6 separate regions of the Homo sapiens genome follow, and all the other regions are linked to region 2. Evidence: fine-mapped expression QTL. A gene starts in region 2. Each other region holds a variant in brackets. All regions are shown on one strand. Distances are between the middles of the regions. Region 1 has its middle 68 kb from the start of LINC02848. Region 2 holds the start of ZNF736 (zinc finger protein 736). Region 3 has its middle 48 kb from the start of ZNF736. Region 4 overlaps LOC105375318 (a long non-coding RNA gene). Region 5 overlaps ZNF680 (zinc finger protein 680). Region 6 overlaps LOC105375315 (a long non-coding RNA gene).

Region 1 (5,400 bases), 480 kb before region 2:
AAAAGATACACTATATGAACACTAGCCAAAGAGGTCTGGAATGGCTACACTAATAGCAGACAAAACAGACTTTAAGGCTGGGGTCAGTGGCTCGCGCTTGTAATCCCAGCATGTTGGGAGCCCGAGGCAGGCGGGTCACCTGAGGTCATCAGGAGTTCAAGACCAGCCTGGCCAACATGGTGAAACCCCGTCTCTACTAAAAATACAAAAAAAAATTAGCCAGGTGTGGTGGCATGCACCTGTAATCCCAGCTACTCAGGAGGCTGAGGCAGGAGAATCGCTTGAACCTGGGAGTCAGATGTTGCAGTGAGCTGAGATCGTGCCACTGCACTCCAGCCCAGGTAACAGAGCAAGACTCCATCTCAAAAAAAAAAAAAAAAAAAAAAGACTTTAAGACAAAAGTAGTTACTAGGGCAAATAAGGACATTTTACGATGATAAAAGGATCAATTCATCAAGAAGATATGGCAATTATAAACACTTAGGCACCTAATAACAGAGTTCTGAAATACCTGAGGCAAAAAACTGAGAAAATATAGGACAAAAATAGATTTACCAATAAAAGTGGGAGATGTGATTACCCACTTTCAATAATGAATAGAACAACCAGGCAGAAGATCAAAGAAGCAAAGAAATAGGAACTGGAAGAGCTTTGCAAACCACCTAAAACTCTCTACCCAACAATACCAGAACACACATTCTTCTCAAGTACACATTCTCAGGAGAGGCCATACATTAACACATAAAGAAGTCTCCATAATTTTTAAAAGATTAAAATGCACAGTATGTTATCCAACCACATGGAGGTCAAGGCTACAGTGAGCCCTGATTGCACCATTGCACTCTGGTCTGGGTGACAGAGCAAGACCTTGTCTCAGAGAAAGAAAAAAAAATGAAAAGGTGGCCACATAATAGAAAAATATAATTGCAAATTATATATCTGGTAAGGGACTTGTATCCAGTATGTATAAAGAATTCTTATAACTTCACAATAAAAGACAATCCATTTAAAACATAGGTAGAGGACTTGAATAGAGATTTCTCCGAAGAAGACATACAAATGGCTAATAAGCACATGAGAAGATACTCAGCTAGTCTGGCCAACATGGTGAAACCCTATCTCTATTAAAAATACAAAAGAGCCCAGGTGCAGTTGCTCTTGCCACGAATCCCAGCACTTTGGGAGACTGAGGCGGGCAGATCCCCTGAGGTCGGGAGTTCAAGACCATCCTGACCAACATGGAGAAACTCCGCCTCTACTCAAAATACAAAATTAGCTGGGCATGGTGGCACATGCCTGTAATTCCAGCTACTTGGGAGGCTGAGGCAGGAGAATTGCTTGAACCCGGGAGGTGGAGGTTGCAGTGAGCCAAGATTGCACCATTGCACTCCAGCCTGGGCTACAAGAGCAAAACTCTGTCTCAAAAAAATAATAATAATAAAAATAAAACCATAAAAATACAAAAAAAAATTAGCCGGGCATGGTTATGATGCCTGTAATCCCAGCTACTCCGGAGGCTGAGGCAGGAGAATTGCTTGAATGCAGGAGACAGAGGTTCAAAACCAGCCTGGCCAACGTAGTGAAACTCGGTCTCTACTAAAAATACAAAAATTAGCTGGGTGTCGTGGCAGGTGCCTGTAATCCCAGCAACTCAGGAGGCTGAGGCAGGAGAATCTCTTGAACCTGGAAGGCAGAGGTTGCAGTGAGCTGGGATCGTGCCATTGCACTCCAGCCTGGGCAACAAGAGAGAAACTCCATCTCAAAAAAAAAAAAAAGTAAAAAAAGAAAAGTTTGACAGCCCTTCAAATACTGCCAGGTTCCATGATGGCCCTGGATCCTGCATTGAAGAAACCATATGGGCAGATCCCAAGCCATCACAAACAACATATAATGCACAAGAAGGAAAACTCTGTTGCTGTAAGCCAATGAGATTTCAGGGTTGTTGCTGCAACATAACCTGGTGAAAGCTGACCAACAGCCCAGAGAAAGATGCTCAATCCATTTCAAGGCATAGAGAAGTTCCTGGATCATAATAAGGGTTCAACAGTGTTTATCACTGCAAATATACTCTGACTTTCAACATATTAGGTTGGTGCAAAAGTAATTTCAGCGTATTAGGTTGGTGCATTAAAAGCAATGGCAAAAACCGCAATTACTTTTGCACCAACCTAATAACTTCTCAATTTGCACTCACTCAATTTAAATGAAAAGCCTTTTCCTTGGATCCTTGAAAACATTCTGTCCTAGAACATCATCAGGCTAAGGATCGGAAGGCACGTGTTTCTGCCCTAGCTCTGCCCCATGACTCTGGTCACAAGGCTTGCTTTTTCTGGGGCTCTGTTTCCTCGTAGACAATTACCAAGGTTCCTTCCAGCTCAAAGAAGCTTCTGAGTCTACAGACAAACAACTACTAGAATCTTCCATGTCAGTCAACAAATGTTAGCACCATCAGTCATGAAGCTGGGTGATTTGGGGACCTCAGCTTCTTCATCCTTTTTTCCCTTTACAGGATTTATGTCAGGCTTTACCCACTGTCCATTTTCAAGGCAATGTCATTTTTTTAATAGGTTCCTACAGCAAAGCACAGTGTTTTTATTTTTGTTTTTCTAAAATTAAGTTGGGTCACAAAACTGTTAGAGGAAAAAAAAGTGGTTTCCTAGAGAAGGGAGAATGCTTTATGGGGGTTATAAAAAATCTTTGGCAGCTTGGCACGGTGGCTCAGTCTTTCCCAGCACTTTGGGAGGCCGAGGTGGGCAGATCACCTGAGGTCGGTGGTTCGAGACCAGCCTGACCAACATGGAGAAACCCCGTCTCTACTAAAAATACAAAATTAGCGGCCGGGCGCGGTGGCTCACGCCTGTAATCCCAGCACTTTGGGAGGCCAAGGCGGGCGAATAACGAGGTCGGGAGAT[G/T]GAGACCATCCTGGCTAACACAGTGAAACCCCGCCTCTACTAAAAATACAAAAAATTAGCCGGGCATGGTGGCGGGCGCCTGTAGTCCCAGCAACTCGGGAGGCTGAGGCAGGAGAATGGCATGAACCCAGGAGGCGGAGCTTGCAGTGAGCCGAGATCACACTACTGCACTCCAGCCTGGGCGACAGAGCAAGACCCCGTCTCAAAAAAAAAAAAAATTAGCTGGGCATGATGGCACATGCCTGTAATCCCAGCTATTCGGGAGGCTGAGGCAGGAGAATCACTTGAACCTGGGAGGCGGAGGTTGTGGTGAGCCAAGATCACACCATTGCACTCCAGCCTGGGGAACAAGAGTGAAACTTCGTCTCAAAAAAAAAAAAGAAAAAAATTGGCTAACCAAGTATGTCTTTAACTTATAGGACTAAATAAAAAACCAGGGCATCATCGAAGTAGAAATCTGAAATGCTGTGGTTGGCAGAGCTCTGGACTGAGAACTAAAGTCCTGGATTCCAGCTCAGTTTTTTTGTCATTAGTCAGCCAGGTGACCTTGGGCAATCACTCGATTTCTCTAGGTTTCGATTTCCCTGTGTGGGAGCAATAAAGGATCTCCAAAGTCCAGTCAATCAATCAAACCATCAAATTAGATAGTGGTGATGATAACATGACTCTGTTATGATACTCAAAGCTGTGGAATTGTGTACTGTGAGAGGGTAAATATTATGGTATGTAAATTATATCTCAATAAAGTTGTTCATACAAAACCATCATGTCAAAGAGCTTACAGTCATGTGAGCATGGAAGAAACTATGCTAAACAAGTCAGTAAGGCCACGTGCAGTGGCTCACGCCTGTAATCCCAGCACTCTGGGAGGCTGAGGCAGGCGGATTACAAGGTCAGGAGTTTGAGACCAGCCTGACCAACATGGTGAAACCCTGTCTCTACTAATAATACAAATATTAGCCAGGCGTGATGGTGTACACCTGTAATCTCAGCTACTCAGGAGGCTGAGGCAGGAGACTTGCTTGAACCCAGGTGGCGGAGGTTGCAGTGAGCTGAGATCATGCCATTGCACTCCAGCCTGTGTGACAGAGTGAGACTCCATCTCAGAAGGAAAAAAAAAAGGGTCAGTAAATTACTCAGCATATTAGGTGGCAATAAGTGCTTTCTGGGGAAAAGTGGAGCAAGGAATGGGGACATGGAATGACAGCTAAGTGGGAGACAGTTATTAAAAGATGGTGGTCAGGGAAGTCCTCACTGAAGTGACATTTGGGTAAAGACTGGAAGGAGATGAGGGAGTGAGTCAGGAATATGCAGGGAACAGCATTCCAAGCAGAGGGAACAGCAAATGAAAAGACGGAGGCAGGAGAGAGCCTGGAGTCCTTAATGAGGAACAAGAATGTGTGGCTGCATAGAGTGAAATATGGGAAAGGAGTAGAAGATGAGATTGGAGGATGACGTGGGGTAGAAGGAAGAGTGGGAGGACCATGTGGGAAGTTGCAGGAACTAACTTCAGCTTTATTCTCAGTGGAAAGCAGCAGTGGGTTTTGACCTGAGAGCCAATTTGATCAGAGGTTTTTATTTTTTGTTTTTTTTTTTATTTTTAGTTTTTTTTTTTAGAGTTGGGGTCTTGCTCTGTCACCCAGGATGGAGTGCAGTGGTGCAATTATAGCTCATTGCAGCCTCCAACTTCTGGCCTCTAGTGATCATCCCACTTCAGCCTCCCAAGTAGCTGGGAATACAGGTGTGCACCATGACACCCAGATACTTTTATTTTCATTTTTAGATTCGTAGAGATGGGGTCTCACTATGTTGTCCAGACTGGTCTCGAATTTCTGGCCTCAAGCAATCCTCCTGTCTTAGCCTTCCAAAGTGCTAGGATTACAGGTGTGAGACACCACACCTGATCCTGACCTGTGTTTTATGGGATCTTTCTGGCTGCAGAAGAGAATGGACTGAAGAGGGGCAAAAGTAGAATAGGGAGAGCAAATAGGAGACTATTGCAATTGCCCAAGCTCAAAAAGATGAAGTGATTTACCCAAAACGTCCAGAAGGAGTGTGGGGCAGCTGGCCTCTAGCAATGGGCCCGGTGAACCATAGTCACACCCTTGTGGAGTCTCCTCCCATAGTGAATTGATGCTGGCCTCTGACTTGCTTTAAACAGTAGAAGGAAGTCATGCTCTGTGATACCTGAGCACAGGCATCTACCATTTTTGCAATTGTGGGGGTGCTCTGAGCTGCCATGTTGAAGTCCAGCTATCCTGGGAGAGGGACCATGAGGGAGAGGCCCCATGGATAGGAGAGGTTATCCTAATGGGGCTTCCAGGTGACTTCAGGCCCAATGACCAACGAGGTGGCTGCAGTCACCCAAAAGCCAGACCCACAGAACTGCCTGGATAACCCACATAATTAAAAAGTAACAAGTGGTGGTCTTTGCTTTAAGCCTCTGAAGTTTTTTGTTTGCAGCAATAAGCAATCGAAACAGAAAGCT
Region 2 (5,400 bases):
CCTGCAGCTAAAGGGGGGGACAAGTGGAAGATGCGGATAGGAGGGTCCAGGAGACAGGGGATTATGAGATTTCAGGGGACAGGCCTCGAAGGGACACCCAAAAGTGAGTAGTCATCCCCATCACCACCCGACAGCACAGGGTGTTGCCTCCATCCTGGACACATTTTCCAGTTATCTGGTGATGGGAAACCCTGCCAGAAAGGATTATATGGATGGGAGTGAGCCTGGGATGGGCAGGGCTGGAACCAGAATCCTGAGGCTTGGGAGAAGAGAATCAGGACTACACCCTTAGATCTCAGCACTTGGCAAACTTCCTCTCATGAGAGCGTCACGGCTGCCTCTGTGAGCTGAGGTATCAGGCCCCTCTTCCCTATGAATGTTGAAGATTCCACACCAGCCACCAGTCCCTGTTCCCTGAGTGATGAAGCTGCAGAGCTGTCTGCTTGCAAAGCCCAGTGAGGTTTTGCCTGAGCTGGACTCAGACTCTCCCTCAGATGGTGCCAATGGAAGGATAGTAAACTTAGGCCTCTCCAAGGGCAGGCAGCTCGTATGTGGCTGAGCACTTTTGTTTTTTGTTTTTTGGTTTTTTTTGAGATGGAGCCTCCTCTGTCACCCAGGCTGGAGTGCAGTGGCATGATCTTGGCTCACTGCAAACTCCGCCTCCCAGGTTCAAGCAATTCTCTGCCTCAGCCTCCTTAGTAGCTGGGATTACAGGTGCCCACAACCACGCCCAGCTAATTCTTGTATTTTTAGTAGAGACGGGGTTTTGCCATCTTGGCCAGGCTGGTCTTGAACTCCTGACCTGGTGATCCACCATCCTCAGCCTCCCAAAGTACTGGGATTACAGGTGTGAGCCACCGTGCCTGGCCTGGCTGAGCACTTTTTTAAATGGGAGCCCTCAGTTTTTATGTCTGTCATCAAAGAGAGTTGGGGTGGGAGGTCCCTGAGCCTCAGCTCCCATTGTCCCCTTTGAACCCCAGAACCTGCTGCAGACCCAAGTCCTGCTTTGTGCACATCCCCTGCCCCTGGTGGCCCTGGCAGTAATGCAGTATGAAGAGTGTGGGGAGGGGACCTAGTCAGGGTCCAAGGGGCCTTTCTGATGACCATTGGCTGACTTCTAGGGAAATGTAACACCCAGAAAGAAAAGGAAGGTGAGCAGCTGGGGCAACATTGGGAGAGAGTGGGGAGGTGAAAGTCAGCAACACCCTGTGCTATCAGGTGGTGATGGGGATGAGTATCCACTTTTGGGTGTCCATTCAAGGCCTGTCCCTGAAATCTCATAAGCCCCCATCTCCTGGACTCTCCTATCCACATCTTTTACTTGAAAAAGCCAAAGACACGCAGCTGCCTCTCTCCAACTCTCTCCCCTCTTCCTAGCTGGCCTCCAAAAACATGAAGCACTCCCTTATTAACTCTGTGGTGAGATTTTAACAAGTCACAATGTTATGTGGTCCCTAGCTCCACCGTTTCCCAAATCCACTCAGCCCAGCTCTTCCAGGCCTTTACTCTGATTTCTCTTATAGAGGCATTTCAGGGACTGTTGCCACAGGAGGGAAGGGCTGAGGGAGAAAGGCCCCTTGCTCTTTTGATGTGGAGGCCTCCAGCTGGGAGGGAGGAGCTCTTCCCTCTGAATCCCTGGAGCTCTTCCCCATCACAGGTACCTGCCTTTTTGCTGCTTTAGCCTCATCTGGGCTTTCTGTGGTTTCTTCTCTAGGGTGGCCAACTTGGGTGTCTTCCTCTGCCAGGGTCAAGGACAAGGTCAGTGATATTATGCTCCCTTCACCCAGTTATGCCCAGTTACATTGACCTGGTACCCTGGATAACTGGTGTGAGTCAAGCTGGTCCAGTGCTCCTGCCACCTCCAGTAAACTCTGATTCTAGATTCACTCCCTGCTGCAACACTCACTGTGTGTGGAACCTTGGGCATGCAGCCAGGCCTCCCTGAGACTGTTTCTCAACTTGAAAGTGTGATGGGAACCACACCTACCTCACTGGGCCTCGTGAGGACTCAGTTATATGTAGCCGTCACCATTGTTCTCATCATCATCTCTCTCAGGAAGAGCCAGGCACAAGCACTCTCAAATTTTTCTCCTTTGAAGCTCCTCATTACCCTGTGAGGCTCATCATCCCTACATTTTTTAGATAAGAAAACAGAGGCCCAAAGAGGGCAGTGACTTGCCCAGGGCTCTACAGAAGAGGCCGGCTCCTCCCCACACCTGGAGGCCCTGACCTAGCTGACTTTACCCCACAGCCCAGCACTATCCCTGACTAGGGTCCCATCTTGGTTCTCCATGCTTGTTTAGGTCCTCAGGCAGGCTCAGCTTTGGTGGGAAAGAGACAGGGTGTTTTGGGAGGCCTGGGCGAGTGGCACCTCTAACCAATCTGCTAGGCCCTCACCTCTCAGTCTCACTGAGACACTCCATTAATTGGAAGCAGACCCAAAATTGCTTCACAGACTGAAGGTGATAATTGTCTACAGCCAGCTGAAGCAGCTGCATCTCCTGGAGGACTTTGATCTCCTGCAGCTAAAGGGAAAGACAGGATGCTGAGACAGGGCCTGCAGCATACACATAACTATAATTCAGAATGTAATATATACACACACACGAAAATATAATCAGAAAGTGATATAATCTTATATGCAAGGTTAAATACAAATGTCTCTCAGGCAGGGCCAGGCCCCCAGCACAGGGAGGACTCGCCTGAAAACGCTGCAGGCAAAAACCTGTCACCCTTGCCTCATTCAGCCCAGTGTCTGATTACATCTTCTGTCACTTAGGATTGAAACGGGTGGGGCCTGGAGCCCTAGCCAATCAGTGGCGCCAGCGTGAAACTGTCCAATCAAGTGCGCAGCTACAGAGGAAGAGGCGGCCTCTTCAATATGGCGGGGCCTTTGTCTCCTAGCTTCCGGGCTCTGATCCTAGTTCGCGTCTCCACTGTTCCATCTCCTCCGTTCCTGGAGTTCCTCGGTGACTCTACTATAGCTTCTGTTATCCTGTGACCTGCAGGTACTGGGAGATCCATAGGGAGGACGGCGGAACATCTGGAGGCTGGGAAATGGTGAGTGCGTGGAGTGGGTGTCCCGAGAATGGGGAAGAGGCTGTTTGAATCCGGCCGGAACCGGCTGCGGTGGTATCTGGGCCTTCTCGCGGTCTGCTCTGGAGTCTGCATCCCCGAGTCCCCGCGGGCACAGCTCAATCCTCATTTCCCTCCATCGCAGATTAGGGGCTGAGCCAGCAGCCAAAACGCTACGTCTTGTTTTGTCCCTAAACTCGAATTTCTCCCCAGCTCAGATCCCTTCCTGGGCAGCTCTGTGCCGCAACCTCGAGTCTCCCTCCTCCAGATTGTGTGGGGGTGTTGGGAGTGTCATAAGACGGGAATTCTCATTTAGGGTCTGGAGTTCCTCCGTGGAAGAAGCAGTGGGCCGTGGGGTCCCTAGTCCCTCCTTTCTCCTTTTAAAAATAAAATCATGGCCCTTTTTTAAATTTATTTATTTTTGAGACAGTGTCTCACTCTGTTGCCCAGGCTAAAGTGCATTTCGGTTCACTGCAGCCTCCACCTACTGGGCTCAGATGATCCTCTCACCCCAGCCCCCCAAGTAGCTAGGACTAGAGGGGTGCGCCACCACGCCTATTTTGTTTTGTTTGTTTTTGTAGAGACAGGCTTTTGCCATGTTGCTCAGGCTGGTCTCGAACTCCCCGAGCTCAGGTCTCAGGTGATCCGCCCGCCTCGGGCCTCCTAAAGTGCCGGGATTACGTGCATGACCCACCACCCTAGCCTAAATTGAGGCAACTTTAGGATATAATTTGGATGTGTTTTCCAGCCCAAATCTCCTATTTAAATGTAATCCCCCATGTTGGAGGTGGGGCCTGGTGGAAGGATTGTGGGCCCGGATTTCTCACGAATAGTTTAGCACCATTCCTCTTGGTATTGTCCTCTCAATAGTGAGTGAGTTCCCTGAAGTTCATCATTTAGAAGTGTACAGCACCCCACCTTGCCTCTTTTTCAAGCTCTTGCTTCACCTTCATCCATGATTTTAAGCTTTCTGGGTGGGGCCTCCCCAGAAGCAGACGCTGGTGTTATGCTTTCTATGCAGCCTGTGGAACCATGAGCCAATTAATCCTCTTATAAATTACCCAGTCTGAGGTATTTATAGTAATGCCAGAAGCGATTAATACAAATAGTTTACTTGCACAAACAGTAATTTATCAATCAGAGAACACCCAGCTATGATTTGTTGTTTGGGGGCTCAAAGGAGGGTCTTGGAACAAAAGGTTGTTTTTTTTTTTTAAGAGGTATGAGGAAGCAAACCAGATTCAATATTTGATTGGTTACAGTTACGTATTGCATTTGCAGCCCTCCGGTGGAAATGTCCTGGTTATGTAATTAGAGCTTTTTATTGGCAGCTTGTGGTTGGTTAAGCCTAAGTTGTTTTGTTGTTGTTGTTGTTGTTTCTCAAAGTTAATAATTTACCAGAAATTCCTTCGACGTAGTTAGGTTTCCTTAGGCAGAATCCCAGGGCACCATGGCCACTTCAGCCTAATTGCTAGCTATTTAATTATTTTAATGCTCCACAGGGTCGTTGGTTTTCTCTGCATTTTTCAAATGTTTGGCAAGCAGGGTCTCAAATCTAAAACTGTTCTCCCAGCCTAACTGTTCTAGGGACTGTATAAAATTCTAAATTTCCAATTTCTTTCCCACATTCCCAAATGCCAACTATCCCTCTCCAAATCACATTATGAACTATCAGTTCTTTATTTAATTTTAAAACGGATGTGGCATTTTGTTTATTTTTGTTTAACAGAGCCGTGGGTGGCTCTTTTTAATATATTAGTCTGTTTGTGCATATTTCACAGGACAGAAAAGCAAAGAGTAGTCACCTGACACTGCGCATCTCCTCTCATCTTCTCTAGGCACGCGCGCCTTCCCAGAATGTCTTTGGATCCTTTGCAGGGTGATGTGTCCTCAGTCACTCTCCTGTGTTTTCCTGGTCCAAGTATTACAGCTTTCTGGGGATGATCCAAGATACCCACAAGGACCATATCTCTTGGAGTGTCTAGCAAACATTAGCCCCTGGGTCATCTCCTTTCAGAGAAGAGCCTGAGGCATTGGGTGGAGCCTCTCAGGGGAGCAGCTGGATGCCCTCGTGCTGAGAGCAGTTTCCTGATTCACCCTTCCTCTAAAAAGCTAACTGCTTTAACATTAAGATTTTTTTCCCCTCAATCCTAGTTTTCATTTCTTGCAGACACATTGGTGGTCAACCAATCAGGTGCTGATATTGAGGGGAAAAGGCACAAATGCATCTTGCCCTCTGGTTTCTCTCAGGCTTGTGAAGGAGAATAACTGTCCCAAAGTACAGGAAAGATCCACTCTAGTGAGGGAGTGTATAAATTTGCAAAG
Region 3 (5,400 bases), 48 kb after region 2:
TACTGGACCTTCTCCTCTCTATGTAAGTCCCCAGTAAAACCTCATCTCATTCACTGGCTCTGAGTCTCTTTGACACCTTGAACCTGGTGCCATTTCCATGGGAGTCGAATTTGACACAGCTTACCCCATAGTGAGGAAGAGTTTCAGACTCTGCTCAGTGTGCTTCAAAGCTCACCAAGGCATCAGCTATGGAAGGATGCAGTTGTTCTCTTACCACTCTCATCCAGGCCTCTTTTCCTTAGATGCACAATCAGTGGAATACCGAGAAAGATGAGTAAGAAACACATCATGGTCAGAAGCATGATTAATGCCAGAATAAGCAGTGACCACTTGGAAAGCAAAAGGGAGCATTTTTCTTTCTCCTGTGGGTAGTCCCTGACTTCTGTCATTACTTTCTGGATTCAGGAATGATTTTTAAGTTCATCCTGCCTCTGGAGGAACCGTAGGCCCTGAGTGGTAAACACCTTCACTTAATCCTGCAACAAAGCTTTCTCTTGACAATCATGACCTCTGTGATCATGAGCTTCTAAGCAATCTGGACAATACACAACCTGAAAACCTATGGAAGGGAGATGAGTAGGTCTGAGGGAAACAATTTCCCACTTTTTCCCTTGGCAAGTTGAAAAAATTATGATGGCAGACAAATGTGCAGAAGAGGACAGCATACTATAATTCCTCATCATGTGAGTTTGCAACTAAGAGTTTTTAATCCTAGCTGTGAGAGCTCCGAATGAAAACCAGAAGTTACGTCACTGCATCTATCAGTGATTAGATTGCACAACATTTTGTCTGTCATACTGAGGAGTCTTCACTGAGGATTTTCCCATTGAACATATAAAGACAGGAAAGGGTAAAATAGCAACCCTATGAAATCATTAAATACAATGTAGAAATGTTCATCTTCTCACATGATTAGCATTTTTGCACATATTTGCATGTGTATCTACCCATAAAGCTGACATTTTCATAATTCAGTTATATGTCAAGTTAAAATTTTTTTTTTTTCTCAACTGGGCACAGTGGCTCACATGTGTAATCCCAGCACTTTTGGAGGCTGAGGCGGGTGGATCACCTGAGGTCAGGAGTTCGAAACCAGCCTGGCCAACATGGTGAAACCCTGTCTCGACTAAAAATACAAAAAAAAAAAAAAGTTAGCTGGGTGTGGTGGCACACACCTGTAATACCAGCTGCTTGGGAGGCTGAGGCAGGAAAATCACTCGAACCTGGGAGGTGCAGGTTGCAGGTTGCAGTGAGCTGAAATCACGTCACTGCACTCCCCCCTGGGTGACAGAGCAAGACTCCATCTCAAAAAACAAAAAAATTCTTTTATAACAAAGACACACATATTGTCCAGACATGCCCTGGTGCAGTGGAGTGGGTGTGGCCCTCTCCTGGGAAAGAAGTCAGTGCCCTGGATTATGTGTGGGGGATCCATTGGGACACAAAGAGGCAGTCAGGGTCTTGGCCTGGCAACACTAAGACTTCCAGGGGGCTTCAGAAAGCAGCAGAAATGGCCCATGACACTGAGTGCCAGATGGGCCTGTAACAATGAAAGATCTGCCGAGGGATCTTAGCAATCTTCCTAGGAGGCCCTGACTATACCCTGGGTTGGAGACTCCTGGGGTAGAGTGGCTGCCAGAGAGCCTCAGCAAATGAGTCTTGACCACTATGGCTAGGCCAATGTAAAATAGCTCATCCCTTCTGTTTTACAAAGCAAAATACAGAAAAATAAAGTGAAACAAATGAAATCAAGAGAAAGAAAATAAAATTTAAAAATAAATTTAAAGTAATTGAAAAACAGGACAAACTGAAATAAAGAAAAACAAACGTAATTAAGATCAGTGAAAATAAAATGAAGATGAAGATACTAATTACAATAAAAACAGAAGTAAACAAATGCAATAATTTGCAATAAAATAAAATTTTAAGAAATGAGAAATGGAAAAAGAAACATGGAGAAAAATAATAGGGGATATGAATGGAAATAAACAAGAAATTAAAACATGACAAAAATTCTAGAAAATTTGAAATTAAGAGAATGTAATGAGAAAAAAGAAAAAGAAATAAAATTAATAGAAAGAAAGTAAAAAAAGAAAATAAAGATAAAGGCAAATGCAGAGAGAAATAAAAGGTTAAAAAGAAAAATAAGACCTGGGAATAATCTACAAAACATTTCACTTGACAATAGCATAATACGTAATATTTCTAATTGCATATGGCACATATTCTAAGATAGGCAAACTTCTAAGCTGGAATGCAAGTTTTAGTGTAAACAAATGGTAATCATAAAAATATTATTTCTGACTACAATGAAATATAACTGGAAGTTAAAAGCCAAAAGAAAACTAGCATACCTGCATATATATGAAAACTCGACAAATTCTTTAGCATACTATTTTTCAAGAGTTAGAACATGCAAGTTTCTTTAGATGTTAATGGTATTCGAAATGATCTACAAATCAATGAGATCTCTTTCAAAAAAACCAATGGTACTTTTTGCAGAAGTACTAAAATATTCTAAAATGTTTGAGTCAATATTTAGCTGTGTCACCCAGGCTGCAGTGCAGTGTCATAATCATGGCTCAGTGTAGCCTTGACCTCTCAAGCTCAATTGATTTTCTCACCTCAGCCTTACAAGTAACTGGGACTGCAGGTGTATGCCACCAGGCTCAGCAAGTTTTTGTATTTTTTGTAGAGACAGAGTTTCACCATATTGCCCAAGCTGCTCTCAAACTCCTGGGCTCAAGCAATCCACCTGCCTTGGCTTCCCAAAGTTCTGAGATCACAGGACTAAGCCACCAAAATATTGCCCTATAATTTCTATAAACACTCAAAAAAAACCACAAGTAGCCAAACAACCTGGAAATAAATGATAAACTCAGAGGCATAATTCTTTTTTTGTTTAAAAATATATTGCAAATTTACAGTAATCAAAATACTGTGGTGTTGGCATAAAGACAGAAAAATGTTGAAACATAGAAGCCAGAAAGAGACCCACATGTGTATACTAAGCTTATCTTAAATGAGGGTTCCAAATCTTCATGTTGCAGAACTTTCCTTCAGCAAAATTGGGTTCTTGTCACATGACTAGGAAAGATTAGGCTCAGAGACACTCTGAAGGGTGAGGAGTAGAGTTGATTGGGTTAAAAACCAGAAAAAAAAAAAAGTGAGTCGGAGTCCTGTTTAAAGGCCCCCACCTCCTAGATTGGTGAACACCAGACCATCACACA[G/C]AAACTGAAGAGGCCAGGCTCCTCCTCCCTGCACAAGGGGTAAACTTTCCATGGCTCCACTCCCTTCCCCCCAGTGTGCAGGTGGACATTATTCAGTTAGAAAATTATTCATAATCAGTTAGAAAAAGGCAGGCTTCATCTGGGACCAGCAGTCTGATTTTTTAGTCTTCAGGCTGTTTTAGGCTTGAAGATGGGGTTTCACCCAGGACCCTTGGCTGTTTAACTCTGTTATTTCCCCCTCTAAAGAAGCACATCTAACTGCTGTTAGAATCAAAATAAAGATAAGGACAAAAAACCATTTTTAACTGCTTCCTGATGACAGGGGACACTGTTTTGGAAAAATGGCAGTCAGATCTCCCTAAGAGGCCTATCTAAGAGTTCCCTGTGAAAGGGGCCATTGTCCAAGGCTCTGGTTGTGTGACTCTTTGAAGTTTGGTAGCCTGAAGGTGGGAAGAATCAAACTGGGTTATTTAAAAACATGTATTAAAACGAAACAAGGGGAAGGTGGCAAGGAAAGCTAAGAAATCCCAAGGTCTTTTACCAGTTTGCATAGGGAAAGGGAGACCAAAAGCCCAACGGGGGAAAGAAAGAAAGAAAAAAAAAAACACCTTTTACCCTTTTGCCAGCATGTCAGGCTTCTGGGTTCTTTTGTCTTGAGTCCAATCCTAAGCCACCCAGTCTAAGGTTTGGAAAATTAATTCTTCCAAGCTTGGAGGATGCATCTGAGGGGACCGTCCCATAGTATGAAGACATGATTACCTATCTGTAAAGAGAAGACAGAGGGGATAAAAGGAAAAAAGCATGTTTTCAAAGGAGTCCCAAGGGTTCAGGATGCATTCGAAAAGGATATAGACTGAAGATGAATGAATGGTTACTCATCTAGAAAGAGAGGAGCAGGTGTCCCTGGTTCCTTTTTCATCCTAGCAAATACCCAGGTATGTTGACAGAAGAAAGAATGTTCTCTTTTCCCCTTCCATCCTTGTATCCCCAAGTCCCAGTGATTGTGACAGGGTGCCACCCATTGGTGTCCAAGCAGCTTCCACCCTGGTTAACAGGGAGGCCTAGGGGGGTGGAAATATTTGCTCTTATCCTATTTCCCCTTCTGTCAGTGGTTCTGGAGTTCACTAGACCTCACTTATTCCACAGATCCTAGCATGATATTTATCTATGAAATGGGAGGCTTGGTTTAATCGGCTGGAATTAGTCATGCTCACCTGCACTGTGCCTTTTAACCTCCATTATCTGCCTGTAGATTTCTCAGATCCAGTATTCTTTCCTAAGGCTTCAACTTGAAGCTTGGAATTGAGGTTGGGACAAAAATATGTCTCAGGGGATTGCATAGACTCCTTACCATGAGCTGAATGCTAAGATGAAGCTGTGGAATTAAGTCCTCTTTCCACAAGGGAGAGAAAAGAATGTCTTTTGACACACCCAGATAACTAGTGGCTATAGTTATGCTTGCTGAGATTGCGATGGGCACCCTATTTATTCCCATTCCTCTGCAGGATTTGCAGAATAATTGCCCAGAAGTAGAATATTAATCCAGATTTTTACATTACCCATCCCTTTTTGTTTCTTCTGAGCTGCAGTTGAAGATCGCCAGGTGGTTCACCGGAATAAGCAGGATTGGTCTAAAATGTAGGCAAAAACTCAAAACTAATGAGTTTAGAATTTAATGACAATTGTATAATAAGTTTTGAAACATAATCTTTATCCAGTCCTCTTTTCTGTTAAAAACGAATCATGACAGGACTGAGTTATTTGTGAAATAAACATTAGTCTTATACTTGGCCTGATTATTTGCATAAAGTGCAGCAAGAATAATTATTTTTACATAGGTCTTTTACACTGGCTTCGATGGAACTCTGTTCCACAAGAAATTTTACATAGGACTTTCTGAAGTCAAGCCCAGCCATGGGTTCGTACTATCAAATACTTATGAGTTGGGTGATCCTCTCCTCTTGTGGTCCCAAGATAAACTTGGGGCTCCTGGGCCTATCAGAAAGTGTCATTCTTTACTTACCATAGATCAGGAACGGAACCCTGCACAAGGACTGTGTAGATGAGTTATGAGGCCAGTTTTTCCAAGGGGCTTTTATTGGCTCTGCAAGTTGAGCTTGACTCCATAAAGGGAAGCATACCCAATGCAAACAGCCATATTGCCATAGGT
Region 4 (5,400 bases), 380 kb before region 2:
ACTGCCATAACGACTTTTAATCCCAGCCTACCTCTCATCTACATGACCACAAACCCCTACACTAAGGCCTATCTGAGGGAAAATCGCTCATCGATAACCTAAAAACTATCCCCTTTCAATGCCAGTGGGCTGATGAAAAAAATAAAAAGAATAAAAAACCCATTTACCCCAATGCACTATCCTATACAACATATGCTATTGCTTTTAACAAAAATTAGAAGCCAAGACATCCCTTTTTATCTTTAGTGAGAATATTTATTTGTGTTAAAACCAAATTAAGGTCCCAGTGTGGAGTTCAGGATGCTGGGACCTCAGACCATGCTGGGCGCCCGCCTCCCGCCCGCCGTGGCCCGACCGCGTCCAAGAAGGCCCAGCGGAGGCTCCGGGGAAGGCGACCCTGGCAGGCGGCCAGGCCCGCGACATCGAAATCGGCGTCCGTTGCCCACGGAGCGCGGGAGGACGCACCTGCAGCCCGACGAGCGCTCGCACCCGCGGGACACGGCGCATGGATTCCGCGAGTACACTGTCGCGGCCACGGCATCCCGGGCCAGCACCGCGGCCTCGGCTCCCTGCTCTGCCGCTCTATCCCCAAGGCGGCTTTGGGTTCTGAATGTTCCTGTTCCTCAGCAGCCAGACGAGGGATGCCCAGGGACGGCCTTACAACAACGCAGGCTGCTGTGCGGCTGGGGCGCCCGCGTGGCCGGGGCCGTGGTGGTCATATTTCCCATGGACGCCATCAAGGTGAAGTTCATCCACCGCCAGACCTCCCCAGACGTCCAGTGCAGAGGAGTCTCCCACCGGGGTTAGGGAGATTGTGCGGGAACAAGGGGACCCAGCGGGGCCTCACGGCCCCCGCGCTGAAGCAGGGCTGGAACCAGGCCATCCGCTTCTTCTCCTGACCCCCCTGCATAGCTGGTACCGAGGGGACAACCCCAGCAAGCCCATGAACCCGCTGGTCGCTGGGGCCTTCGGAGCCATTGCAGGCGCAGCCAGTGTCTTGGGAAACGCTCCACTGCACGGGATCGAGACCCGGATGCGGGGCCTGAAAAGCACAAATGCAGAACACACGGGACTGCGGCTGCAAATCCTGAGAAAGGAAGGGCTCAAGGCCTTCTACAACGGCATTGTCCCCCACCTGGGCCGGGTCTGCCTGGATGTGACCACAGTGTTTATCCTCTGCCATGAGGTAGGAAAGCTGCTCAACAGTGTGGAAGACGGAGTAAGCCCGGAAGGGCCTTGAGGGGACCGCCCCAGGCACCTCCAGAGCGGCCACCACCCTTGTCTCACAGGATTCCAGTGCAGAAATGCCAAGCGGCCCCTGCCCAGGTCCCTCGAGCTCTGTGACCTGCCTTGTGCATTATGACGTCAAGTCTGTGTGTCCCCTAGGGCCATGTCGCCCCGTGGTCTGTATGTGACAGCGGCCCTGTGTCCACTTGTCTGGCCCGGTGTTGGCTGGATGTCCATCTGGCCTGTGAGTCTGTGCCCCCTTGTCCATGTGCTTACTGTGAGCCCTGGGCCTGTGATTCATGTTCTGCGTCATGTGACACTGCGCCCCACCTCCCAGGGTGCCCGTGTGGCCTGGGTCCTCGAGCCTGTCGCCCTGGCCCAGTCCCAGTCCACTGCCTTCCACCCTGCCCTGGGCTACCACAGCTGCCTCCAGGCCTCGGCCTGGTTTCACCGCATTCTCGGGATTACACCCCTGACCCCCAAATCCCGCCCCCCACCAGCGCTTCTCCCACTATTGGCTTAACTGGCCCGCTGGCCCTCCCTACGCCCAGGAGAGGGTGACACCCACCACTCTCAGGATCACCCTGCCAAGGCAGAGTAAACCGGATCCTATTGCAAAAAATAAAAAATAAAGTATGAAGCACAGAAGAAGATAAGGTACGAGGAAAAAGGGTTAGAAGTTTTTTTGTTGTTTTTTTTTTTTTGAGACAGAGTCTTGCTCTGTTGCCCAGGCTGGAGTGCAGTGGCACGATCTTGGCTCACTGCACCCTCCACCTCCCGGGTTCAAGTGATTCTCCTTCCCCAGCCTCCCGAGTAGCTGGGATTACAGGCACGCCCCACCAAGCCCGCCTAATTTTTGTATTTTTAATAGAGACGGGTTTCACTATGTTGCCCAGGCTGGTCTGGAACTCCTGGCCTCAAGTGATCCTCCCACCTCGGCCTCCCAAAGTGCTGGGAATACAGGCGTGAGCCACTGTGCCTGGCCGGTTTGGAAGAAATTTGATATCACATAAACTTTGCATACTGGAAATATATTTATAATATTTTAAATGTAAAAAGTATTATAAATATATTTATATTTATAAATATTAATATAAAATATTAAATTTAATTATTTTAAATGTTTAAGTAAAAACAAATGGGGAAAAGATGATATCAAAATAATTTTTGAAAGAGCAGGAAACTATAAACTGAACAAACAAATTTGGAAAAGAGCAAATAGAAATGGAATAATTTAAACATAAAGAAATTTAATATACAATATGTGAGTTAATTATAAAATTAGACTAAGTTGATGATGAGAGAATTAGTAAACTGGGTTAATGAATTGGAATTTTGAGCAGAACGAATATAACCAAATAAAAGGAAGAGAAACAAAATAATAGCAATATGTATGCAATTATACATATGTGAAGAATAGAAAGAGTAAAGCACAATTATTTCACTTGAATCCATACAAATAATGTCATACTAATAAATAATTATTTACAAATTTCTGAAATTAAAAACCAGACATGTGCCTAAAAGAGACACTGTGCCTGAAAGAGAGCAATAAAGAGGCCGGGTGCGGTGGCTCATGCCTGTAATCTCAGCACTTTGGGAGGCCAAGGTGGGCGCAACATTTGAAGTTAGGAGTTTGAGACCAGCCCGGGCAACATGGTGAAACCT[C/T]GTCTCTACTAAAAATACAGAAAAATTAGCCAGGCATGGTGGCCAACACCTGTGATCCCAGCTACTCTGGAGGCTGAGGCAGGAGAATCGCTTGAACCTGGGAGACTGAGGTTGCGGTGAGCCAAGATTGCACCGTTACACTCCAGCCTGGGTGACAGAGAAAGACTCCATCTCCGAAAAAAAAAAAAAAGTGAGAGAGCAATAAAGAAAGATATCCAACACGATAAGTCAAACTGCATAACACCAAAGAGAATGAAGAAAATTAAAATCCATGAGAGAGAGAGAGAGAATCTACACAGGTGAGAATAAAATCTCCACAGCCCATGGCAGAGCCAGAAAACTGAGAAGGAGATACTAAGAGTGCTGAAAAATTATTGTTCAACCTATAATTGAATACACAACTAGCATATTTTTAAATAAATAAGGGTAAACTAAATAACCTTCGAAAGTAAACACACACACACACACACACACACACACACACACACACACACACACAAAGAGAAATTTCATCTACCAACAGGAGCATCTTAAGTGTACACTTTAAGAAGATAGAAAAGTTGTCTTATATAAAATTTAGGGAATCAAAATTAAATGTAAGAAACTTGTGGACAAAGGGAACTATGATGTTGGACTTTGAACTAAAGAAACCACCAAGTTCTTGGCAGCATAGTTTTCAAAAGTATTAAGATGAAATAAAAGTGTAATAAAATAATATATCAAATCGCCTGCTTCTTGAAAAATTTGATGTCAAAATCTGTTTTTCAGATAATTGTTTTCATAATTTATTAATCATCTATGATATTTATATCACACATTATGCAAAATTTTGATTATTCTTTTATCAGAACTAATTAGCATAAAAGGGCTAACAGAAATTGCCCACAAGCATCTGGACACCCACGATGACTGAGTCATAAGCCCATAACAGGGTTGAGGATGATGAGATGATAAGGTCCACCCAGTACATGACCACAGAGCAACTCACCAGCAACAGAATGGTCTGTGTGGCCCTTTTCTCTGGGGAGGCTTTTGCAGAGAGGTTGGTGCTGGGAAGGTACTGGGGTTGTCTCTGATGTCTGGACAAAATAATTACCATGTATGCCCTTGAGAGAAACATGATTGCTACAAAGAAGACATCTGTAAGTAGTGGCAGCATGAAAAACAGGCTCCTGATGTTGTCCCTTATGTAAGAAAGTGAACAGTATTTACTGATACTTAGCACGTTGCTATTGGTCACATTAGAAGAGGCCACAGTGGAGGAGGGCAGGTTATTACTGAGAAACAAATTGAGAACCCAAAGAAGTGAAAGATGCAACGTGTGAATTTCTGTTTAATTCTTGCCGACCAGGAGGTGCTGGAGCTAATGGTGACAGCCTGGAACATACTCCGGAAGCAGGTGGTACAGATGGAGAGCCCTCATCCCTCTATGCATGTAGAATACCTTACGCTTGAAGTCATTCTGAAAATACTGTGACTCAAACAGGTCTGGAGATGCCAAGAAGCTCACAGTGAGGAGCATCACTAAGTGGACAAGGGCCAGGTGACAGGTGATGAGGTCAGTGGGCTTAGACCTGCAGTCCAGAGGGAGTGTGCAGATACAGAAGAAAAGGAGGAAGGTGTTGGCTGTGAGTCTAATACCGGCTTGGAAAAAAAGGGCAATTTTTAATAGTATCATAAGTGGAACAAGGTCATCTTAATCATGAAGAGGAATCATACTTTATATATCTGAAAAAAGCAATAGATATCCTATCATCACTATTTATTGCATGGTCAAAATTATTACCAACATTATCATTTTAATTTTACCCATTTATCTCGATTAACCCCAACTATCTTATATAAATTCTTTAAAATGTAGCCTGAGCTTTATTTTATAACAAATAAATATCATAAAATACATATCTCAAACATCCACACATCCACAATCACACCTATGTAGGGTGCACATTATCTATACTCATATAGTACTTGTGGCTCACTCCTCAGAAAGCATTTCCTTCCTTTCTGAATTTCTCAAATCGCTGAACATTCTCAGGTCTCGAATTTTTTTCTTCGTAAAAGCTTTTCAGCTTCTAAGAATATATATATTTCAATGCTCAAAGACAAAAAACTGTCCACTAAAAATTTTATCCTCAGAAAAACTATCAATTAAAAATAAATAAAAATAAAAACATTTCAGATAAATAAAAACTGAGGCAATTTCTTGATAGCAGACAGATCATTTGAGAAAGAATAAAAATAAGTTTTCAGGCTGAATGCAAGTAATCCCAGATAATTTCAATGCCCCAAAAAGACAAAGAGGACTAGTAAATGTAACAAATATTTAAGGCAATATAAGAAATATTTTTTCTCATATTACTGATTGTCAAAAGCAACTTTGTAATATTGTTTGTAATTGCATCTTCAGTGCAATTTATATAACATAAAGAAATTTAATTTATTTGCCAATAACAGCACAGAGAAGGTGGGTTCAAAAAAAGCTATATTGGGCTAAGAAAATCT
Region 5 (5,400 bases), 230 kb after region 2:
AGGCCAAGGCAGAAGGATTACCTGTGCCTAGGAGTTTGAAAGTAGCCTGGGCAACAAGGTGAGACCCTGTCTTTAAATTTAATTTAATTTAAAATAAAATAAAACATACTCTTTGACATAGTTTTGCTCAAGGGTCAAAAAATTTAATTTTGTTAAGATGTCAATATAACCTAAAGTGGTAAAAAAATTCAATATGATCTCTATAAAAATCCCAATAGCACAGTTTTTTTTACAGAAATGTTTAAAATTTTTTAATTTGATTATGATCATAACTAGCTAAACAACCATGAAAAAAAAGCATTATACTTCCTGATTGAAAAACATATTAAAAGCTACAACAGCAAAAACAATGTGGTACTGACACAATGACATATAAAGAGATAAAAAACAGAATAGACGGCCAGGTGCGCTGGCTCACGCCTGTAATCCCAGCATTTTGGGAGGCCAAGGCGGGCAGATCACAAGGTCAGGAGATCGAGACCATCCTGGCTAACACAGTGAAACCCTGTCTCTACTAAAAATACAAAAAACAATTAGCCGGGCGTGGTGGCGGGCGCCTGTAGTCCCAGCTATTTGGGAGGCTGAGGCAGGAGAATGACGTGAACCCGGGAGGCAGAGCTTGCAGTGAGCTGAGATAGCACCACTGCACTCCAGACTGGGTGACACAGCAAGACTCCATCTCCAAAAAAAAACAAAAAAACAAACAAAAACAGAATAGAGAGCCCAGAAAAGAACGCTTTTGTGTATGATCAAATGATCTTTCACTAAGTCACCATTAACACATGATAGAGAAAAGATAATCTTTTCAAAAAAATAACGTTGAAATCAGGTTATCTACACTGATAAAGCTGAATCCTTTCCTTGAACTATATACAAAGAATATTTGAAATAAAATATTTAGAAATTTAAAAAATAACAATCTCTTAGAAAAAATATAGGAAAAAAACATGACATTGGTATTGGCACCATTTTCTTAGATACAACATTAAATGCATGAGCAACAAAGAGAAGAACAGAATAACTGAACTACACAGTACTTCAAAATTTCTGCATATCAAAGAAAACATTCAAAAGAGTAATGATGCCTCCTAGGAAATGGGTGAAAATATTTGCAAATCACATGTGATAGGAGTTAATATTCAGAATATATAAACAACTATTAAAACTGAATTATAAAGTTGAATAACAACTTAGAAGTGGACAAATAATTGAACTAAATTTTCATCAAATTGATACAAATGCAAAAAAGCATTTGAAAGGATACACAAAATACTAATTTGTAGACAAATGCATGAAAATCACAATGAAAAACAGAATCCTCTTACACCCATTATAATAGCCACTATAAGTTTTCTAGAAAACATCAAATCAGTTGATGATGCAATGAAAATTTGCAACAAAAACACGTTAATTGTTGGTGCAAAACAAGGATGCAACCATTATTTACAAATGTTATAAATGTTCCTCAAATAATTAAAAATGGAATTATTAAATACAGCAATCCCACTTATGGATCTACATCCAAACTATGCAACGCAGGACCTGGAAGACATATTTGAACATTTATGTTTCTTGTACCAGCATCACAAAAGCCAAAACGCGGCCAGGCACAGTGGCTCACACCTGTAATCCCAGCACTTTGGAAGGCGGAGGCGGGTGGATCACCTGAGGTCAGCAGTTTGAGACCAGCTTTGCCAACATGGTGAAACCTTGTCTCTACTAAATATACAAAATTTAGCCAGGTGTGGTGGTGGGTGCCTGTAATCCCAGCTACTCAGGAGGCTGAGGCAGGAGAATCACTTGAACCTGGGAGGCGGAGACTGCAGTGAGCCAAGATTGTGCCATTGCACTCTAGCCTGGGAGGCAGAGCAAGACTCCATCTCAAAAAAAAAAAAAAAAAAAAGCCAAAATGCTGAAGCAATCCAGATGTTGATTTATAAATACATAAAAAAAGTAACATATGTATACAATGGAATATTATTCAGCCTTAAAAAAAAATCTTGGGAAGCTGAGGGAGGAGAATTGTTTGAACCTGGGAGGTAGAGGTGAGCCAAGATGGCACCACTGCGCTCCAGCCTGGGCAACAAGAGCAAAACTTCGTCTCAAAAAAAAAAAAAAAAAAAAAAAAGAAAAGAAAATCTTGTCCCATTTTATTATAAATGTTGAGAATTATGTCACCTAAAATGAGCCAGTAACAAAATGATGGGTACTGTATGATTCCACTTATGAGATATCTTAAGTAGTCACACTCATAAAAACAGAAAGTGGAAGCGTGTCTGTCAAGGGCTGAAGAGAGGGTAAAATGGGCAGTTGTTACTTAATGTGTACTGAGTTTTAGTTTTACAAGATGTAAAACTTTTAGAAGTATTTTGCCTAACAGTGTGAATACACTTAACATGCTCGAAATGTACAACTTTTATTCAGACAGGATCTCACTCTGTCACCCAAGCTGGAGTGCAGTGGCACAATTATGGCTTACTATAGCCTTAACCAGGCTGAAGTAAATCCTCCCCCATCAATCTCCCAAGTAGCTGAAACCACAAGTGCACACCACCATGCCTGTCTTTAAAAATAGTTTTTTTTGTAGACTGGGTCTTTATATGTTGCCCAAGCTGGTCTCCAAATTTTGGGCTCAAGTGATACTCCTGTCTTGGCCTCTCAAAATCCCTGGATTACAGATGTAAGCCACCACCATGCCTGGCCCTGAAATGTACACTTCAATGAATTTAAGATGGTAAATTTTATGTTATATTTTCACAATTAATTTTTTAAAAGAAAAACTGAAAAAATAAAGATTTATAAATCTTTTCAAAAATTATCTTCAAATCACAAACGTGTTTCTCTCATGCAAAAGAAATATATATTCATCATTAAACAC[A/T]TGGTGAAAAGAAGGCGATTTCCATGACTACTCATTTAGATATGATCGGACAACCATTGAAAATCAGCTAAGAAAGAATACCTACAAAATAAGCCATAACCAAAATGGAGGTCATATTTGTAGATAAAAGCACACACATATACAAACTGATTGTGATAGACATATGGCTGATTTATCCTTTTTTTTTTTTTTTTTTTGAGATGGAGGCTCGCTCTGTCGCCCAGGCTGGAGTACAGTAGTGCAATCTCAGCTCACTGTAACCTCTGCCTCCCAGGTTCAAGAGATTCCCCTGCCTCAGCCTCCCAAGTAGCTGGGACTACAGGCACCCGCTACCACACCAGGCTAATTTTTGTATTTTTAGTAGAGATGGGGCTTCACCATATTGGCCAGGCTGGTCTCGAACTCCTGACCTTCTGATCCACCTGCCTCGGGCTCCCAAAGTGCTGGGATTACAGGCATGAGCCACTGAGCCCGGCTGATTTATCTTTTAATTAAACCCCATGTTGACTTAAAGTTTACAAACAGAATTGCAAAATGTCTAAATATATAAGTAAAACAAAAAATCACAATAAACTGATGTTTAAAAAGTACACTAAATAAAACACTAATATGGAACTGCAAAACAATAACTAAAGAAGTTTACTCACAAAATCTGCTTTGCAATATTTATGTGCCATTAAAAAATTTGTCTAGATAATTACAATATTTGACTATGTGTACTCATGGAAAGCAGGTATTTCAAATCATTGGCATGCGCTGTGTTGCAATAAAATTTCAGGAAAAAAACAGTATAATTATAAATAAAAGATTCTAACAATAAATTTATAATAAACAAAAATTTACAAGAAATTAGTATTTATGTTTTAAATATATGCTATTCTTACACAAAATAAAACTACTGTAATCCAACTTTAGAAGCAAAACAATAGTCTTGCATTGCTAAATTTAAAAATTATATATTTTGCAGAATATGGTTAGCACTTCTTATATATAAAACAAATATTTAGAAATTAGTTATGTTGTTATTTAGATATATGCTTAAGTGGGTGAAAATCCTGTAATTCCTGTTTGCCTGAAGCAAACTTAAATTTATAAGTAACATCAACCATATCATGTAAATTCTAGCATATTGTCCTAAATGTCTGAACCTAAAGTACAGAAAAATTTGAAATAGAAAATAGAAAGTAAAAATGTATAGGGAGAGTGACATCAGTAAGATGGAAAAATAAAAGGTTCCTTATTTGCTTATCATCCCACAGCAAGAAAATTTATCAGCCATCCCTGTCAAAAATGCATTTATGTGAGCCATGGCTCACACCTGTAATGACAGCTACATGGTACATTCAGGTTGGGGAACTGCTTCAGGCCAGGATTTCAAGACCAACCTGGGTTATGAAGCCAAAACCCATCTCAAAAATAAGTGCCTTTAAGAGAGCTTTGAGATCCAGAGAGGGTGTTGTGAAACTGCTACAGTCTAAGATTAAGGAGTGTTCTTTTCAGAAGGCAGGCCCTCATTCAGGTGGAAAAATACAGGACCCCTGTTCTAGGCTGCAGACCAGGAAATGGCCCACCAAATTTGGTCCCACTGAGAATTCTGAACTTACTCTCTAATCATCCCAAACTCCTCCCAGCCACAGTCTGGGAGAGACCGTGCCCTTCCAGAGGCCTGGAGGAAGACAGCCATTTATAGCCACGCAGGCAGGCCTGCAGACCTTGTCCTTTACTGTGGTTTCTGAAGCAGTTCGATGACTCAGTTCCAGCTCCCTGAGCCACAGTTCACGGCCAGTTCTGCCTATAAAGGAACCCACACAGTGACCTGAAAAAATTCTCTTTGATACTCAGTGAAAGCCATACTCATCCACATTCTGATATAAGGCCCACCATATATAGACCCAATTACAAAAACCTGCCCTACTGTCTGCCCTACAGAGCAACATCCAGAAAAATATTTAGTCTGTTCCAAAATATAATGAAAATTACAATTACCCAAGCCCCTGTTAAGCCAACTAAAGGTGAGCCCTAGTGCAGACCCAGCAGCCTTGTGACCAAGCTACGCCCCTCTCCACTACAAACCCAGAGGACATCCCATCACCCTGAGAACCCAACAAAAAAAATCTTTACCTTCTAAACCAGTTTATAAAAACTTAAAGAGGTGTTTGCTCCTTTAAATTCAGACACCAATGCAAAACTATATTGTACCCACTGTAAATACTTTATTTTAACATAGAACTGCAAGTATGTGGCAGAAAAATTAGTCAAAAAAAGTTTTTAAACTCACTGAAATTGAAGACAAATGAGTAAAAACTTGCTGCTTATCGATCATATGCTCTTATATATAAAAAATTATAAACAGTACACTAAAACCTGTTTAAATTAATAAATACATTCAGTAAATTAGCAAAATATAAAATTAACATACAAGTTTAAGTTATGGTTCCATACACTTAAAGCAAACTGATTATTAAGAAAACAATCTTATTTACAGTAGCATTAAAATAATTTCTGAGAACAAATTTAAACAA
Region 6 (5,400 bases), 580 kb before region 2:
AGACGAAACCAGGAAGAAGTTGAATCTCTGAATAGACCAATAACAGGATCTGAAATTATGGCAATAATCAATAGCTTACCAACCAAAAAGTCCAGGACCAGATGGATTCACAGCCGAATTCTACCAGAGGTACAAGGAGGAACTGGTACCATTCCTTCTGAAACTATTCCAATCAATAGAAAGAGGGAATCCTCCCTAACTCATTTTCTGAGGCCAGCATCATCCTGATACCAAAGCTGGGCAGAGACACAACCAAAAAAGAGAATTTTAGACCAATATCCTTGATGAACATTGATGCAAAAATCCTCAAGAAAATACTGGCAGACTGAATCCAGCAACATATCAAAAAGCTTATCCACCATGATCAAGTGGGCTTCATCCCTGGGATGCAAGGCTGGTTCATTATACACAAATCAATAAATGTAATCCAGCATATAAACAGAACCAAAGACAAAAACCACATGATTATCTCAATAGATGCAGAAAAGGCCTTTGACAAAATTCAACAACGCTTTATGCTAAAAACTCTCAATAAATTAGGTATTGATGGGACGTATCTCAAAATAGTAAGAGCTATCTATGACAAACCCACAGCCAATACCATACTGAATGGGCAAAAACTGGAAGCATTCCCTTTGAAAACTGGCACAAGACAGGGATGCCCTCTCTCACCACTCCTATTCAACATAGTGTTGGAAGTTCTGGCCAGGGCAATTAGGCAGGAGAAGGAAATAAAGGGTATTCAAGTAGGAAAAGAGGAAGTCAAATTGTCCCTGTTTACAGACGACATGATTGTATATCTAGAAAACCCCATTGTCTCAGCCCAAAATCTCCTTAAGCTGATAAGCAACTTCAGCAAAGTCTCAGGAAAAAAAATCAATGTACAAAAATCACAAGCATTCTTATACACCAATAACAGAGAAACAGAGCCAAATCATGAGTGAACTCCCTTTCACAATTGCTTCAAAGAGAATAAAATACCTAGGAATCCAACTTACAAGGAATGTGAAGGACCTTTCAAGGAGAACTACAAACCACTGCTCAAGGAAATAAAAGAGGATACAAAGAAATGGAAGAACGTTCCATGTTCATGGGTAGAAAGAATCAATATCGTGAAAATGGCCATACTGCCCAAGGTAATTTATAGATTCAATGCCATCCCCATCAAGCTACCAGTGACTTTCTTCACAGAATTGGAAAAAACTACTTTAAAGTTCATATGGAACCAAAAAAGAGCCCGCATTGCCAAGTCAATCCTAAGCCAAAAGAACAAAGCTGGAGGCATCACACTACCTGACTTCAAACTATACTACAAGGCTACAGTAACCAAAATAGCATGGTACTGATACCAAAACAGAGAGATAGATCAGTGGAACAGAACACAGCCCTCAGAAATAACACCACATATCTACAACTATCTGATCTTTGACAAACCTGAGAAAAACAAGCAATGGCGAAAGGATTCCCTATTTAATAAATGGTGCTGGGAAAACTGGCTAGCCATATGTAGAAAGCTGAAACTGGATCCCTTCCTTACACCTTATACACAAATTAATTCAAGATGGATTAAAGACTTAAACATTAGACCTAAAACCATAAAAACCCTAGAAGAAAACCTAGGCATTACCATTCAGGACATAGGCATGGGCAAGGACTTCATGTCTAAAACACCAAAAGCAATGGCAACAAAAGCCAAAATTGACAAATGGGATCTAATTAAACTAAAGAGCTTCTGCACAGCAAAAGAAACTACCATCAGAGTGAACAGGCAACCTAGAAAATGGGAGAAAATTTTCGTAACCTACTCATCTGACAAAGGGCTAATATCCAGAATCTACAATGAACTCAAATTTACAAGAAAAAAATAACCCCATCAAAAAGTGGGCAAAGGACATGAACAGACACTTCTCAAAAGAAGACATTTATGCAGCCAAAAAAACACATGAAAAAATGCTCACCATCACTGGCCATCAGAGAAATGCAAATCAAAACCACAATGAGATACCATCTCATACCAGTTAGAATGGCAATCATTAAAAAGTCAGGAAACAACAGGTGCTGGAGAGGATGTGGAGAAATAGGAACGCTTTTACACTGTTGGTGGGACTGTAAACTAGTTCAACCATTGTGGAAGTCAGTGTGGCGATTCCTCAGGGATCTAGAACTAGAAATACCATTTGACCCAGCTGTCCCATTACTGGGTATATACCCAAAGGACTATAAATCATGCTGCTATAAAGACACATGCACACGTATGTTTATTGCGGCACTATTCACAATAGCAAAGACTTGGAACCAACCCAAATGTCCAACAATGATAGATTGGATTAAGAAAATGTGGCACATATACACCATGGAATACTATGCAGCCATAAAAAATGATGAGTTCATGTCCTTTGTAGGGACGTGGATGAAATTGGAAATCATTATTCTCAGTAAACTATTGCAAGGACAAAAAACCAAACACTGCATATTCTCACTCATAGGTGGGAATTGAACAATGAGAACACATGAACACAGGAAGGGGAACATCACACTCTGGGGACTGTTGTGGGGTGGGGGGAGGGTGGAGGGATAGCATTAGGAGATATACCTAATGCTAAATGACGAGTTAATGGGTGTAGCACACCAGCATGGCACATGTATGCATATGTAACTAACCTGCACATTGTGCACATGTACCCTAAAACTTAAAGTATAATAATAAAATAAAATATATATAAAAAATAAGTAAAATAAAATAAATAATAAAAAAAAATGAGCCAGGGATGATAGCATATACCTGTAGTCCCAGCTACTAGGGAGGCTGAAGTGGGAGGACTGCTTGAGCCTGTGAATTTGAGGTTACAGTGAGCTGTGATTGCACCGCTGCACTCCAGCCTTGGTGACAGAGTGAGATCTTGTGAAAGAGAGACCGAAAGAGAGAAGAAACAGAAAAAGAAAAAACATGAGCATGGTGGGCATGGGGACAGATGGCAATGTTAAATAGAATGGTCAGGGGTGTCCTCCTAAGTGAAAATTGAGCAAAGACTTGAAGGAGGGGAAGGAGTTGGCCAAGGTGC[T/C]GAGGGAAGAGGATTATAGGCAGAAAAACAGGATAAAGTGTCTGAGGTGTGTCTGAGGCTCTAGAAGGAGGCCAGTGGAGCAGAAGGATAGAAGGAATTAGGGGAAGGGATCAGTACATATCACATAAGCCCTGGGAGGTTATTGCTGGGGCTTGGGCTTTGGCTTTTATTCTGACTGAGATGGGAACTGTGGGAGGGTTCTGAGCAGAGAGGCGACATGATCTGTCTCCTGATTTGAAAGCATTCTCTGGCTGCTCATTTTAGAAAGGCTGTGGGAAGATTTGGGTAGAAGCATGGGGGCCAAGCTGTGGCAACATCCAGGCAGGAGATATTAGTGGTCTTGACCAGGGTCGTGGTGGTGAGAGATGGTCAGAGGAGAGAAGTAGGGGAGGAGGCCAGGGAGTTGCTGGGTGGGAGTCCAGTACGTGGTGAAGACAGTCAACAGGATTTCCTGACAGACTGGATGTGGGGTGTGAGAGAAGGCAGGGGTCAAGGTTGAGTTTGATTCTCACTGAATTATTAAGTAATTTTAAAAAAACACTACTGCCTTTCTCAATCCTACCAAGTATGGGATGCTAGATTAAAGAAATCTCTTCATTTTCAGTGCAGTGGCTCATGCCTGTAGTCCCAGCTGTTTGGGAAGCAGAGATGGGAGTATCTTTTAAGGACAGGAGTTCAAGACCAGTGTGGGCAACATAGCAAGACCTCCTCTCTACAAAAATGTTTTTCAAAATTTAATAAAATAAATGTAGGTAGGCATGGTGATGTATACTTGTAGTCCCAGCTACTCAGGAGGCTGAGGTGGGCAGATCTCTTGAGGTCAGGAGTTTGAGGCCAGCTTGGGCAATATAGCAAGACCCCTCACTCTACAAAAAATTTAAAAAATAGCCAGATATGGTGGCACTCAACTGTAGTACCAGCTACTGGGGAGCTGAGACAGAAAGATGGCTTGAGCCCAGGAGATTGTGGCTGCAGTGAGCTCTAAGTACACAACTGCACTCCAGTCTAGGTGACAGAGCACGACCTGTCTCACAGTACAAATAGAAATACAAATAAAATAATGAAATCTCAAGTTAGAGCCTTTTGTCTCTGCAGCCCTTGCAACCCCGGAGCTGTGCAGTGGGGTTTGTCTCTGGGAATGAGGAGACCCCTGCCCAGTGTTGTTGCCTGACTAATCATAGTGTTTTTAAAAATGTATTAATTGGGGTGGGTGCAGTGGCTCATGCCTGTAATCCCGGCACTTTGGGAGACCCAAGGGGATGGATCACCTGAGGTCAAGAGTTCGAGACCAGCCTGGCCAACATGGTGAAACCCCGTTTCTACTAAAAAAAACACAAAAATTAGCTGGGCATGGTGGTGGGCACCTGCCCAGCTACTTGAGAGGCAGAGGCAGGAGAATCACTTGAGCCTGGGGGCGGAGGTTGCAGTGAGCCGAGATCGCGCCACTTCACTCCAGCCTGGGTGAAAGAGCGAGACTCCATCTCCAAAAAAAAAAAAAAAAAGTATTAACATGTAATGATTTTATTATTAATATGTAATGTATATTAAATATTTTTAAAAACTTGTATTATATCAACATGTAATGGTTTTATTAATATGTGATAATATTTTTAAAATTTAGTCATTTTCTAATTTTAATATATTTATGTAAAGAAAAAGTCTTAAGAGATCTTCAATAAAGTTAAAAAATGTAAAAGGATGCTAGACCCCGAAAGATTGAGAACTTCTAGTTTAGAAATATTCCAAGTAAGCCACATACAACTTGCTACTTAATCTATTTTCTTTCTTTCTTTTTTCTTTTAGGAGATGGGGTCTCACCCTGTCACCCAGGCTGGAGTACAGTGGTGCCATCACAGCTTGCTGCAGCTTTGAACTCCTGGGCTAAGGATCCTCCTGCCTCAGCCTCCTGAGTAGCTGGGACTGTAGGTATACATGATGACACCTGGCTAATTTTTAAATTGTTTTGTAGACATGGGGTCTCACTTTATTGGCCAGGCTGTTGTCAAACTCCTGGCCTCAGGTGACCCTTCTACCCCTGCCTCCCATCCTAGAGGTATGAGCCACGACAACAAGCACTTGTTCAATTTTCTAAAAAAATAAAAAATGTCTAAAGGCTGTGGGATGATGGCAGGAAAAGTAGAAAAACAGAAAAGTTCAAATAACTTACTCACACATATTCTTTTGACAGCAAGGAGAACTTTTAGTATATATGTTCCTTACAAAAAAACAAAAGGCAAATAAACTGTTGTATAAGAACTTCAACACACACTGTACAATATTCCCACCTTGCTGACATCAGTTATGGAAATTCTTCGTGGTTTACTTGACTATCGCTATC

The links. PIP is the estimated chance that this variant, and not a neighbour inherited with it, causes the effect.
Region 1: its variant is fine-mapped to the expression of ZNF736 in subcutaneous fat (GTEx, PIP 0.97).
Region 3: its variant is fine-mapped to the expression of ZNF736 in whole blood (INTERVAL, PIP 0.98).
Region 4: its variant is fine-mapped to the expression of ZNF736 in esophagus muscle (GTEx, PIP 0.99).
Region 5: its variant is fine-mapped to the expression of ZNF736 in lung (TOPMed, PIP above 0.99).
Region 6: its variant is fine-mapped to the expression of ZNF736 in CD4 T cells (BLUEPRINT, PIP 0.95).

What each region holds. Positions count from the first base shown.
Region 1 is chr7:63,829,115-63,834,514 of GRCh38, forward strand. No RefSeq gene overlaps it. Among named protein-coding and RNA genes, the nearest start is that of LINC02848, 68 kb to the right of the region's middle. The variant G/T (reference allele first, on the strand shown) is at 2,913.
Region 2 is chr7:64,311,094-64,316,493 of GRCh38, forward strand. ZNF736 (zinc finger protein 736) reads left to right here and starts at 2,868. Exons shown (of 4, transcript NM_001170905.3): 1 at 2,868-3,060. The coding sequence starts at 3,058. RefSeq lists an enhancer at 2,921-3,100.
Region 3 is chr7:64,358,969-64,364,368 of GRCh38, forward strand. No RefSeq gene overlaps it. Among named protein-coding and RNA genes, the nearest start is that of ZNF736, 48 kb to the left of the region's middle. The variant G/C (reference allele first, on the strand shown) is at 3,231.
Region 4 is chr7:63,930,759-63,936,158 of GRCh38, forward strand. The region is part of intron 1 of LOC105375318 (a long non-coding RNA gene); the gene reads left to right. It also overlaps the pseudogene SLC25A1P3 and the pseudogene VN1R34P. Among named protein-coding and RNA genes, the nearest start is that of LINC02848, 34 kb to the left of the region's middle. The variant C/T (reference allele first, on the strand shown) is at 2,896.
Region 5 is chr7:64,537,248-64,542,647 of GRCh38, forward strand. The region is part of intron 3 of ZNF680 (zinc finger protein 680); the gene reads right to left. Among named protein-coding and RNA genes, the nearest start is that of ZNF680, 23 kb to the right of the region's middle. The variant A/T (reference allele first, on the strand shown) is at 2,879.
Region 6 is chr7:63,735,880-63,741,279 of GRCh38, forward strand. LOC105375315 (a long non-coding RNA gene) reads left to right here. Exons shown (of 4, transcript XR_927571.2): 4 at 3,667-3,747. Among named protein-coding and RNA genes, the nearest start is that of MIR4283-2, 120 kb to the left of the region's middle. The variant T/C (reference allele first, on the strand shown) is at 3,063.